2 linked regions of the Homo sapiens genome follow. The protein of the gene in region 1 interacts with the protein of each later gene in a pairwise test. Each region holds a gene or a part of one and is shown on either strand. Other genes may lie near its edges.

The links. Proteins that work in one complex are often made in the same cells at the same time.
Region 2: the proteins of ZNF726 (region 1) and PFDN2 interact in binary tests that used the Homo sapiens proteins (3 or more experiments, as listed by UniProt).

Annotation. Positions count from the first base shown.
Region 1 is NC_000019.10:23,913,698-23,917,717, reverse strand, and holds the start of ZNF726 (zinc finger protein 726), read right to left. Parts: upstream 2,833-4,020; 5' UTR 2,724-2,832; coding exon 2,721-2,723; intron 1-2,720. UniProt on the Homo sapiens protein: May be involved in transcriptional regulation.
Region 2 is NC_000001.11:161,104,500-161,108,042, forward strand, and holds part of PFDN2 (prefoldin subunit 2), read right to left. Parts: intron 1-3,543. UniProt on the Homo sapiens protein: Binds specifically to cytosolic chaperonin (c-CPN) and transfers target proteins to it. Binds to nascent polypeptide chain and promotes folding in an environment in which there are many competing pathways for nonnative proteins.

The DNA of each region.
Region 1 (4,020 bases):
CAGACAGTAAATGTATTATTTTATTATTTGTATTAAAAATCAGGTAGTAAACAAACAAAAAAGGATACAGAATAAAGATATTCACTGTCAAAATTTTACCCTGCTAAAAAAAAGGAACTGAAGTTTTCAGTAATATATGTAACTCACCAATTATCTACCACATTTTTTGGGGAAATGTATTCATTGTCTACAGCTGAAATTGAACAGAGATTTTTTTTTTTTTTCTTTTTTTCTTTGGTAGCTACCATTCTAAAAGCTAGATGGACTTCTGTATGAAATCACTCAGCCATAAAAGCACATGCCTGAGAAAATTTCTAAACTCACTCTGAGAAAGATAAAGTAAAAGTTTTCAACAAGTAAAATATATTATTAATTTTTGAAACTCACCTTTTATGGCCTTTGTAAATATTTCCTTACCTTTCAAGCTCTACTAATAAAATGCAATACACAGTTAAAAAACTGAGGTCAGCTGAGCACAGTGGCTCATGCCTGTAATCACAGCACTTTGGGAGGCCAAAGAAGGTGAGTCACTTGAGGCCAGAAGTTTGACACCAGCCTGGCTAGCATGGTGAAACTCCATTTCTACTAAGAATACAAAAACTAGGTGGGTGTGGTGGTGCACACCTGTAATCCCACCTACTTGGGAGACTGAAGCATGACAATCACCTGAAGTCAGGATTTGGAGGTTGCAGTGAGCAGAGATGGCACCACTTTACTCCAGCCTGGGTGACAGAGGGAAACTCTGTCTTAAAAAGATACATAAATAAACTTTAGGTCAAAGCAAATGAACAAATCCTTTCAAGGTACAGATATGTTTTACTCATGTGTCAAGTCAGGCCATTCAATTAGTTGATTGTCTAAAACTGAAGTGTGACTGAAGATACGTCACCCTATGAAGTTTCCAAAAAAAAAAAAATCTTGACCCAAAAACATTCTAAGATATCTGTGACTAGGTAAAATAAAAGAAAAAAACACAGATATTTTACAATAGTGTCAGATTATTCTTTGCTTTATTCTCGTAGGAAATATTTAGAAAAAAAATCATTGTAAATGTGCCATCAAATGCTTTGTCAAAAAATAATTAATTCACCAGGCACGGTAGCTCACATGTGTAATCCCAGCTCTTTGGGAGGCCGAGGCAGGAGGATGACTTGAAACCAGAAGTTCAAGACCAGCCTGGCCAACATAGTGAAACCCCGTCTCTACTAAAACTACAAAAATTAGCCAGGCGTGGTGCCAGGCATCTGTAATTCCAGCTACTTGGGAGACAGAAATGAGAACCGTTTGAGCCCAGGAGGCGGAGGCTGCAGTGAGCCTAAGTCATGCCACTGCACTCCAGCCACTGCACTGCAACAGAGCAAGGCTCTGTCTCAAATACTTTTAAAAAAAAAAAAAGATTCATTAAAATAGGTATCAATATGTACACTAAAGGACAAATAGTTGATAAAGTCAATTAGAGAGGAGAAACTGGCATTTGGCAACGTCAGACAAAACTGGAAATTTAGTATTTTACTGCAAGCCAGTCAGGCTGGAGGAATAAGGGATGAGGGGCAGACTTGAGGCCCTGCTTGGGACACTTGTGAAAAATTCAGGGAAAAAATCAGTCCCCTGTGGAGTGTGAAAACCATTAAGTGGCAGGAAATTAGATTGAGGTGGCTCTAGTCCCTGGATTTCTACTTCTAAAAAAAAAGTCTAAACTCAAGAGCATTTTTTTGTAAATTACTACATTGGCAGAAACAAAATTCAGGCTTAACGCTTAACCAACTATAAACTGCCAATTAAGCTCTGATTACATAACCATGATATTTCCACCTTGATTGTAAAAATTAAGAACTAGGACGGGGGCAGTGGCTCACGCCTGTAATCCCAGAACTTTGGAAGGCCGAGGTGGGTGGATCACCTGAGGTCAGGAGATCGAGACCTGCCTGACCAACACGGTGAAACCCCCGTCTCCGCTAAAAATAAAAAAAATTGCCAAATGTGGTGGCAGGCGCCTGTAGTCCCAACTACTAGGGAGGCTGAGGCAGAAAAATCGCTTGAACCCGGGAGGTGGAGGTTGCAGTGAGCCGAGATCACGAAACTGCACTTCAGCCTGGGCAACAGAGACTCTGCCTCAAAAAAAAAAGAAAATGAAAACAAAACAACAACAACAAAATAACAACAAAATCTACATAACCGTACCTAGCCAATTACGGAATTTGGTTTTATGATGAAACTTATAAAAACCTTTCCTTCCATGGAATACAAATTAGAAACCACAGCAAGGTGCTCTAAAATTTTTGAATCACACTTTAAATTATTTAATGTTTTTGCAGTGAGGCCCATAAATTTTTAATAGGAAAAAATGGCCTGAAAACCCCACGGACCAAAGCTCTTCCCATTCATGAGCCCGCACCCGGAGTCAGGATTCTGCCCTGACGTTCCTCCCATGGTCCCTGCACAATCTGGGAGAGACGCGGGGCTACTGGTGCAGAGCTGCCCAAAGAGGGCTCCAGGCCAGGGCACAGTCACTGCGCAGTGAAGAGACAGAACGCCCGGGAGCCCGGCTGTCAGCGCAGCCGCCATCTTAAGGCTGAAGGGACTGAGGCCGAGCTGGGCAACAACTCGGGCGCAGATTGTAAAACTGACAGCGAGGAGGCCTGAGTCCCGCCACTGCCGCTTCCCACCGGTTCCAGCCAGCCCCGTTCCCTCTCTTGGGATGTCGCACCCGGCACTCTCACCATTTCTAGGCTTCCAGGGGGCAGGTCACAGGGCCACAGAGGCTGCGCCCCTAAAAGCAGAAGACACAGAGTAGTGAGGACGAGACCTGGAGCTCCGGCCGCAGATAGAGACAAAGGCCCCGCCAAATCCCGGAAGCCGCCCTGTTCGCTCCAGCTGCGTGCCTGATTGGACAGTTCCCAGGACAGCGTCTCTGATTGGATAACGTTTAAGAACCCCGCTTTCTAAGGCCCTGAGTGACAGAAGATGTCATCAGACGTTGGGCTGAATGAAGAAAGATTGACAGCCTAAGCCTCAGCCTTTTCAGGCGGGGCTTCCTCCCGGAGCTGAACGAGGCCCATCTCAGAACACGGAAAAATTTTCTCTCTTCTTTGCTGTCTTTTTTTCAACGTATTAAATATGTGAATAATTTTTTTTTTAGACAAAGTTTCGCTCTTGTTGTCCAGGCTGGAGTGCAATGGCGCGATCTCGGCTCACTGCAACCTTCGCCTTCCGGGATCAAGCGATTCTCCTGCCTCAGCCTCCATAGTAGCTGGGACTACAGGTGCACACAGCCACACCGGGCTAATTTTTGTTTTTTGGTTTTTTTTAGTAGAGATGGGGTTTCGCCACGTTAGCCAGGCTGGTTTCGAACTTCTGACCTCAGGAGATCCACCCGCCTCGACCTCCCAAAATGCTAGGATTACAGTCGTGAGCCACCATGCCTGGCCGACTCGATATTATCTTTAAAGCAAAATTAGGAATACCTTTATTCCCCAGATGTTGGAATATCTGGACACTCCTCCGTCTGGTTCTGCTTAGTAAACATTATTAATTCATTTCCTTAACCATAAATATCTAGAGGCTAGGAATGCCTAACTTACTGAGAATGCAGCCCAGCGAGTCTCAGCGTCATTTTCCTAGCTCTCTCTCAAAACGGAGTCGCTCTGGTTCAAATGATTCTGACATATTTTTCGCCTTCCTTTACAAGAGGACCCTTAATCCTAAGAGTTGCAGAGAGACAAAGATTCGTCTTCTGTAACTTTTTCAGGCTGATTAGGGGCGATAATATTCCTGCCTAACCATTGGTCTCTTGCATTCAGGGTAGAGAGAAATTCAGTCAGACAGTGTTGGTATGGTGAAGGTCGTTCATAACTTCTAGTTCCAAAAGAAGGTGATGTCTAGAAGATTAATAAGCGTCCAATTTAAGAAAGCATTTAGTGAGCTTGTCTTGCATTCCTACACAAAGAGTACAACCACAATATATTCCACAACAGCAAAGCAAAATTAGTAAAATTATTCCACGTAAACTAAACAGGAAAG
Region 2 (3,543 bases), on another chromosome or scaffold:
GTGGCACAATCATAGCTCACTGCAGCCTCAATCTCCCTGGGCTCTAGTGATCTTCCTGCCTCAACCTCCCAAACAGCTGGGACTACAGGTGCACACCACCTAATATTTTTGTAGAGACAGGATCTTACTATGTTGCTCAGGCTGGTCTCAAACTCCTGGGCTCAAGTGCTCTGCCTGCCTCAGCCTCCCAAAGTGCTGGGATTACAGGCATGAGCCAACATGCCTGGCCTGGCCCCTTAGCTCTAGTTCGCCTTCTGCAAGGATCACATACAGCAAATATTATCCAAATGGCTGACCTGCACCACCCTTATGTCCCTTCTACTGCCAATAAACCAAGGAGTAATACTTCACCAAAAACTTGTCATTCCAGCAACCTCCTCCTTTCTCCCATCTATCACCCCTTCATCTCAAGCTACTTTAGCCATTCATTTCAACAAATGCCTTGGAAATCTAACTTATCTACAGATTGTTTTTCCTTAACCTTCATTGCCTGTCTCAAAACCATCCCATTTATATTAGCTTTTTCTCCACTGTTAATATTCTAGATCAAAATAATTCCATCTAAAAAAAAATTATGACTAAAGCAGATTCTAGATGTTCCCTCAGCACCCAAATGATCCACTTTTCTGGATGTATGTTGTTAAATACATCAAAGAAATCAGCTTAAGTGTCTAAAATTTCTGATGCCCCAACTTTTAACTCCTGGGCTCAAGTGATCCTTCTGCCTCAGCCTCCCAAGTAGCTGGGACTACAGACATGTGCCACCACGCAATTATTTTTATTTATTTTTATTTTTTGTAGAGACAGGGTCTCACCATGTTGCTCAGGCTGATCTTGAACTCCTGGCCTCAAGCAATCCTCCCACCCTGGCCTCCCAAAGAGCTGGGATTACACGCAGGAGCTACCATGCCCAGCAGAATTTATTTTCCTTAGTAATTAACAGGAATCTACTTTTCTTTTCTTTTCTTTTTTTTTCTGAGAGGAGTCTTGCTCTGTCGCCCAGGCTGGAGTGCAGTGGCGCGATCTCAGCTCATTGCAACCTCCGCCTCCCGGGTTCAAGCGATTCTCCTGCCTCAGCCTCCCAAGTAGCTGGGACTACATGTGCATACCACCACACCAAGGTAATTTTTATAATTTTAGTAGAGATGGGGGTTCCACCATATTGGTCAGGCTGGTCTTGAACTCCTGACCTCAGGTGATCCACCCACCTCAGACTCCCAAAGTGCTGGGATTACAGGCGTGAGCCACTGCACCCGCCTGAGATTTTTTTTTAATTCCAACTTTTCTTCAACATTCTTGCTAATAACTAATTTCCTCTTGTTCCATTTTATGAACTTTTAATCAAATACCAAACTAAAATCTACTTAAACATGTTGAGTTATCTACAGTTATTATGGAAAATTTCAGCCATAAGTGCACTTAAAGGAAATGAAATCTCTTAGCAGCTGATATAGTTTATGTGTCCCCTCTAAGTTTCATATTGAAATATAATCCCCAACTTTGGAGGTGGGGCCTGGTGGGAGGTGTTTGGATCATGGGGGTAGATCTCTCATGAATGACTTGGTTGCCATCCCCTTGATGATAAGTGAGTTATTGGTCTGAGTTCACACAAGATCTGGTTCTTTAAAAGTATGACACCTACCCCTCTTTATTCCTCCTGCTCCCACTATGCATAAGACACCTGTCCCCTCTTTGCCTTTCATCATGATTGGAAGCTTCCTGAGGCCACCCCAGAAGCAGATGCCATGCTTCCTGTACAGCCTACAGAACCATGAGCCAATTAAACCACTTTTCTTATAAATTACCCAGTCTCAGGTAATTATAGCAACACAAGAACGGCCTAATACAGCAGCTAACTGCAACTTAACTGTAGACTATATGTAAATAAGCCAATATTAAGCCATTTCTGGGGTCTGCCAGGTAATGAAAACAGAGAAGCTATCCTCTATTCCCACATTTTTCCTTTTAAAACATAACTTTTCTAATAGTCTTCTCCCCTATGGCTAGGACCTAATTATCCTTCCCTTTCCTTATTCCTTATTCTCTGTCTGCTGTAAGCACAGATTGACACATCAGTGTTGCGTCTCTCAACCCTATTAAATCATCATCTATGTACAAACAATTTTTTTCTTTTCTTCTTTAGACAGGGTCTTACTTGAACTCCTGATTCATCTGTTGCCCAGATGGAGTACAGTGGTGCAATCATGGCTCATTGCAGCCTTGAACTCCTGGGCTCAAGTGATCCTCCTGCCTCCACTTCTAGAGTAGTTAGGACTATATAGGCACCCATCACCACTCCTGGCTAGTTTTTTAAACTTTTTGTAGTGATGGGGTCTCACTCTGTTCCCTAGGCTGGGGTGCAGTGACACAATCATGGCTCAGTGCAGCCTTGAATTCCTGAGCTGAATGAAGCGATCCTCCTACCTCAGCCTCTTGAATGATGGGACCATTGGCATGTGCCACTATGCCCGGCTAATTTCTGTATTTTTTTGCAGAGACAGGGTTTTGCCATATTGCCCAGGCTGGTCTTGAACTCCTGGGCTCAAGTGATCCTCCCATCCTAGCCTCCCAAAGTGCTGGGATTACACGAATGAGCCACCAGGCCCATACCCTATTGATATATTTTTAAAAACTGCTTAACTAGGGCCGGGCATGATGGCTCACGCCTGTAATCCCAGCACTTTGGGAGGCTGAGGTAGATGGATCACGAGGTCAGGAGATCCAGACCATCCTGGCTAATATGGTGAAACCCGGTCTTTACTAATAATACAAAAAATTAGCCGGGTGTGGTGGCACATGCCTGTAGTCCCAGCTACTTGGGAGGCTGAGGCAGGAGAACTGCTTGAACCCAGGAGGCGGAGGTTGCAGTGAGCCGAGATCGTGCCACTGCACTCCATCCTGGCTGACAGAGCGAGACTCTGTCTCAAAAAAAAAAAAAAAAAAAAAAGCTTAACTAATCCTCTGCGTTAGAACATTTAGGTTGTTTCCAATTTTTCTGTAATAAATAGTACCAATATAAAATCTCTTTGGACAGGCCTGGCATGGTGGCTCATGCCTGTAATTCCAGCAGTTTGGTAGGCCAAGGCGGGCAGATTACTTGAGGTCAGGAGTTCACGACCAGCCTGGCCAACATGGTGAAACCCCATCTCTACTAAAAATACAAAAATTAGCCGGGCGTGGTGGTGCACACCTGTAGTCCCAGCAACTTGGGAGGCTGAGGCAGGAGAATCGCTTGAACTCGGGAGGTGAAGGTAGCAGTGAGCCTAAGATCATGCCACTGCACTCCAATCTGGGATACAGAGTGAGATTCTGTCTCAAAAAAACAAAACAAAGGCCAGGCGTGCTGGCTCACACCTGTAATCCCAGCACTTTGGGAGGCCAAAGCGGGCGGATCACCTGAGGTCAGGAGTTCGAGACCAGCCTGGCCAACATGGTGAAACCCCATCTCTACTAAAAATACAAAAAATTAGCTGGATGTGGTGGCGTGTGCCTGTAGTCCCAGCTACTTGGGAGGCTGAGGCAAAAGAATCGCTTGAACCCAGG